Linked DNA regions of Homo sapiens: region 1 is linked to region 2. The links come from fine-mapping of genetic effects on gene expression. A gene starts in region 2. The other region holds a variant in brackets. All regions are shown on one strand. Distances are between the middles of the regions.

What was found. PIP is the estimated chance that this variant, and not a neighbour inherited with it, causes the effect.
Region 1: its variant is fine-mapped to the expression of RBMS3 in iPS cells (HipSci, PIP 0.95).

Annotation. Positions count from the first base shown.
Region 1 is chr3:29,344,512-29,347,426 of GRCh38, forward strand. The region is part of intron 1 of RBMS3 (RNA binding motif single stranded interacting protein 3); the gene reads left to right. Among named protein-coding and RNA genes, the nearest start is that of RBMS3, 65 kb to the left of the region's middle. The variant G/A (reference allele first, on the strand shown) is at 1,629.
Region 2 is chr3:29,279,373-29,282,287 of GRCh38, forward strand. It overlaps RBMS3 (RNA binding motif single stranded interacting protein 3), which reads left to right and starts at 1,699. Exons shown (of 15, transcript NM_001003793.3): 1 at 1,699-2,384. The coding sequence starts at 2,310. It overlaps RBMS3-AS3 (RBMS3 antisense RNA 3), which reads right to left and starts at 1,567. Exons shown (of 3, transcript NR_109804.1): 1 at 1,359-1,567. RefSeq lists an enhancer at 554-603.

The DNA of each region.
Region 1 (2,915 bases), 65 kb after region 2:
AATCATGGCTACTATTTTTAGCTTCATAAGACTCTTGTGTCTATAAATGATATTCCCTTTTTTGAGGATAATGTCTTAAATGCAGTCCAAAATCAATTAGCTATTATGTGCAACCAGGCTACCCTTAGAAAGGTGACTATCCTTTTTTGTATATATTTACCAGTATTTGCCACCCAGACCACAAGGCAAGGGATTGAGGTAGTCACTGGTATTTTTCTGGGAGTAGCTTAAGCTTATAATTTTCATGTACATATTTCCCTTTCTCTCTTTCCAAAAAGGATTATTTAAATTTTTCAACATTTAAGCATAGAGGAAATAAATAAAATAGGTTATCTTGTCATTTTCTCCATAAGGAACTTCTTCAGAAAAGACAGTGTGTAGACAGTCCCAGTGGCTGTCCCCTTTAACTCAAGCCCAGGACCTACAGATTTCTCTGTAGCTCAACAAAATGTCTTTCCACAAAGGGCTGGAGGATTCTTAATTATCAGTTGTTGAATTTCAGTCATCCTGATAACACCATTTAGCCAACTGTGATGGCAGCGATATTTGTCTTGTTAAAGACCCTGAAGTTAAATTACTGCTGTACTATTTTCCTTCAAGCCTGACTTGTTAGTTATGGTGGAAGTGAGCTATTGACTGGGGTCCTCCCATTCATCTATACTTCCTTTATTATTTTAAATGATCTCTAGAGCTAAGGGGCAGCAATTTGCATTATTTATTCAATGAATTCTACCTGATAGTCTTGTCTATAATTTCCCTTGTGAAGAGAACAGAAAGACTAAGAATGAATAAATTGTCTCTTGAAAACTCATGGCTTTATCTGCTTCTGTCACAGAAATGCTATAGATTTCAGTTTTCTTGACTGAGAAATATTTAATAACAAGAAGCTCTACATTCTAGCAGTTTAAAAGGAGGAGGATTTTTTTTTCCCCCACTCTTTGTCTCTCACTGTTTCTTCCTCTCAGCTATACTTTACCTAAAACCTTAATTTTTTCCCCCATTGCTTTTATGGGGATTCCTCTGAAAGACATAAAATGCCTCTCTCCATGAGAAGCCCTGTCATAGGAGACAGCTCTTTCCATCTGTATATTTTACTTGCCTTGCATGTAATTTTCTCATCCAAATGGAAAGCTCACCATGCTCTAATGAAACTTACTAGAGACTCCCAGAAAATTCATGTAACCAGGTTTATGTGTGGGTCTGATGTTTTAAGGGACAGACTGACAATTCATGGCCAGAGGAGGCCATTAAGGAAACAGGTTTGATTGAAGTCCCGACACAGATGTTGACAGCATAATTAAAATGATTAATTGGAGTAAGAGAAGTGTTTCAAACTAATTAGAAAAATGGTTTGGTTATACCCCCAGACTGTACAAATGGCCAGAGGAGCCAATTTTTTTATATAGAGAAGGGAAAAGTGAAGATGTATGTTAAAACAATGTCATTCTTCTTTTATCAAGAGGATACTGCAAAGTTTAAAACTATGATTATTGTTATGTTGGTTTTCCTGTGAGTCTTTAGGTCTATTATCCCAGCCCCTTTTGCCAGGTGGCTGACTGGGCATAGGCGTGCAGCCACGTTCAAGAAACAAAGGGAATACTTGCATAGAACTGGAGTTGGCCCATATT[G/A]ACATAAGACAGTTCTCAATCACAATAACTATTTACTTGCATATTGCTTCTCCAGAGAGAATACAAGTACCCCAAATTACCATCAGATGGCTTAGCACATAGTAGGGCCTCAATATTTTGTGTGTTTGCTGAGGCAACCAAAGCCATATTTTTAAGTATGCCTAAATAATAGGACTGAGAAATTTTTCTTCCAGTTATGCTTTCATTTTCTTGATTATTTCTGTTTTATTGTGAATCCTAGTAAAGGCAATTCATTCTTTTTTTTTTTTTTTTTTTTTTTTTGAGATGGAGTCTTGCTTTGTCGCCCAGGCTGGAATGTAGTGGCGCGATCTCAGCTCACTGCAACCTCCGCCTCCCGGGTTCAAGTGATTCTCCTGCCTCAGCCTCTCGAGTAGCTGGGATTACAGGTGCCGACCACCATGCCCAGCTAATTTTTGTATTTTTAGTAGAGATGGGGTTTCAACAGGTTGACCGGACTGGTCTCGAACTCCTGACCTCAGGTGATCCACTCACCTTGGCCTGGGATTACAGGCGTGAGCCACCGCGCCTGGCCAGCAATTCATTCTTATATCTTCAGAAAACCTGAACTATCATGGACCAATCGGTTTTAGAGATTATTAATGAGCATTAGCAGGGGCATGTTTCAGAACTCTTTGCAGACACAATTTAGTTAAAACATTTCTTAGTTTCTATAAAAGCAAATGTATGCTATTGTGGTGTTGAAGCTCTTTGTACACAAAGTAAACATTACGTGAAAGAACTCCTTTGGCCTGCAAACATAACATTTAAATGGCTATTGACCATATGTTTCTAACTAAAAGCACTATGAAAAACAAGTTCTTGCCAGATTTCAGGTTTTTTTCTAGTTGTGCTCTGTGAAGCCTGGTGGTAGGTTTTCAGTTAATGCCTTTGGCTACATGAACAAGGAGTTTCACCAAGAATGTTGGGAATTCCTTTGGTGACCAAAAGGAAATATGAAGACTCTGGAGGCTGATGAGAGAGACAAATAATGGGGAAGTCATAAACATCATGCCAATTCCTGTCATTTATTTCATTTTCTTTTTAAAATAAGATCTGAAATTGTTTAAAAGAATTTTTGAAAAGCATCAAGTTAACTTTCTAGCACTTTTAAGTTTCATGTAAATCAGTATTCTTCAAGTGCCACATAAATATGTGTAGGTAAGTGTGCTATTTCTAGGTCTATAATATTTAAAGATATTTAATAAATAGGTTTCATTCGTTGCATGCAGGATGCTGACTAAAATTGATAGAGGAAAGGTCTAGGGG
Region 2 (2,915 bases):
CTCCGGTATAGGATGTGAGGGGCAGAGTTGAAAGTCCGAGACTAGAGTAGAAAGCCAGGGCCAGACAGCTCGTCAAGTGTCCTGAAACCTATTCCAAAGAGTCAGGACTTTATTGTTTGAGAAACGTGACACCACTGGAGGATTTTTAAATCAGTGTCATTTTTAGTGTCTGATTCAGTGTACTGCCTTCAGCCAGGAGAGTTGGCAGTATTTCTATTTTATAGATGGGACAACTGAGGCCCCAAATAATACATTTAAGAGATAGGTGGGGTTGATTTAATATTCTCAATCACCATGTTGTCAGGGCCTCCTAACTCTTACCCTCTCACCCTCCATCCTTCCTTCCTTCTGATTGTTATTCTTGTCAAAAGTAAAACATAAAACTATTTACCTGCCATCCTTATTTTTATCCAAGGAACACGTATGCACTCACACAGCTTCCAGAAACCAGTTCCCCTCGGTGGAAGCCAGTTGCTTTAGGGGTGGTGCGGCTTGTATGTGGATGGACACCATGTGTGCACTGAGCCCAAATTCTCTGTTCTTCTTGACTAGGAAGCTGGATTTGTACCAGGGACCTTTTATCTAAATAGGAGACTCTGGGCTCAGGAGAACAGAGCCGACTTGACAAAGTAGAAAAGAGCTCAGTATTGGTCTGCCCACGCTTTGGGCATGCGTGAGCACTCGCAGCAAAACACAGCTGGCACATCTAATTTTAGCCTCGCCCGCCTTGAAAAGGGACCCTTTAAGGAAATATATTTTATCTGAAACAATTTGTATTATAATGTAGCAGCTGATAGACATGACAGAATATTATCATTGGTGGGAAAAAACTCTGCCAAGCAATTATGATTTTTGTTCTTTTTTTTTTAGATGATATCAGTAAAGTGATTAAAGCATCAATGCAACAAAATAATCATAAAGAGAGAGACAATGGGAGAAACAGATTTTATCTGTAAAATATCTGACGAACCTAAGGGGTCACTTCCTTTGATTTTTTTTTTTTTTTTTTTTACAAAATGGATGTATTTTAAAAAAGTTATTATTTTTGATATGTTCAGTTGATCAGTCCAATCTGATGACATGTGGCATTAATAGTAGTCCTGGAGTAGACCCTAAAATTTCTTCAATACTTAACATCCACCAAGTTTTCCAGGTAGTAAAAGGTTAGTTTCTCAATCAGCTCTTGGATGCGTCTGGCTCTAGCGTGTTAACAGATTTTGAAAGCATCCGGGACTTACTTTTTTCCCCTTTAACCAGCAAGGTTAGTTCCCCTGCCTTTATTTCTTTTCCTTTCTCCTCCTTCCTTCTTTCGTCCTCTCTTCCCTCTCTTCTGTGTTTTGTTTAGCAGTGTGGCTTACCTTGGAACTTGGCAAAAAGAGGAACAAAAAGCAGCTCTTGTGTGGGGTAGATGGAGGAGGGATAAGAAATAATCCACCGCCCGCATTTGAGTTCTTCAGGTTCAGTTCCAGCGGCAGCAGCGTTGCTGCAAAAATCGCTTGCTATTCGAGATAGCCAGCAGAGGGAATCGGAACTTTGCTTGCAGCAGGGGTTGAAGCAGCCTTTTTTTTTTTTTTTCTTGGAGGAAATACTGCAGCCTTCTGGACTGCGTACGCTGCTCCCTGGAGAGGCTCTCTCGGTTCCACCCACCGGCTGGAAGGAGGGGAAGTGAATGAAAGGACAGGACAAGCCCCGAACACCATGTCACTCTGGGAGGGAGACAGCAGCAACTAAGCTGTACAAGGTTTTTTTTTTTTTTTTTTCTTCCTTTTTTTCTTTTTTTTTTTCTTTTTCCCCTTTCTTTTTCTTTCTTTCTTTCTTTTTCTTTCTTTCTTTCTCTTTCTCTCTCTCTTTTTTCTTTTTCTTTAAGGTGGGGAAAGAGACAACCAAGAGACAGGAAGCTGATCTGCAAGGATTCGGAGTTGTGCTAAAAGGACTTTGATTTTTTTCCCCCTTTACGAACGCTGGCAATTGACATCACTACAGACAGCCTGGTTAGAGAACAAACTGCCTCATCCCAAGTGGACCCCGGCAGCTGGGGGAAGCCAGGCAAGATCTGGGAAGGCTGTGTGTGGGTGTTTTTTCTACAGATCTCACTCCTCGCCCTTTTTTTTTTTCCTTTGGTGTGTGTTTTTTGTTTTGTTTTGTTTTTTAAAAAAATTCTTGCTGTGTTGGAACTAGCGAGTGGTGGAGTCTCTGAAGCCTCATCAGTCACCGGGACTGTCAGGAATAGTGGTTTAAGAGGAAGCTCGGCCTGGGGCACTATACCCTGTCATCCAGTTCCCTGCCTCGGAGATAAAGATTCCAGCTACATGGGCAAACGCCTGGATCAGCCACAAATGTACCCCCAGTACACTTACTACTATCCTCATTATCTCCAAACCAAGGTATGGCTTGACCCACGGTCTGGCGATCAGCGTGGTATCGTTCTGCACTTGGGATGGGAAACAGACAGGCGTGTGAATTATTAGTTAACCCCCACCCCCATCACTTCTTCCTGCTTCTTTGAAATTAGTGACATACCAATGGAGTTAATGAGGCAGAGGAAGACATAAGAAGAAAGCAGCAAACCCGGAATTGTAGCTTTCTCTTTAAGGAGAGATAATAGTTTCACTTGAGTTCAGTTTCTTTGTTGTTATTTGGCAGCATAAATGGTCCTGATATCAGGAACGTCTTTTGCAGATGGGCACGGTTTTTAGAAAGCAGATCACAACAGTGATTACCAGGCACAAGAATATAATTTCAGGGGCTTTTCTGGTGAGCTGTTCTTTGATTGTGGCTCTAAAAGGGTTTTTCCCACTGGATAGGACGTGCAACGGTGGGGGTAACTCAAACTTTTAATCGCAGGGTATAGAATGAAAGAAGGGTGTGAGAAGGTATAGGGCTCCTACCAGAGTCTCTGAGAGTTTATTTTTATT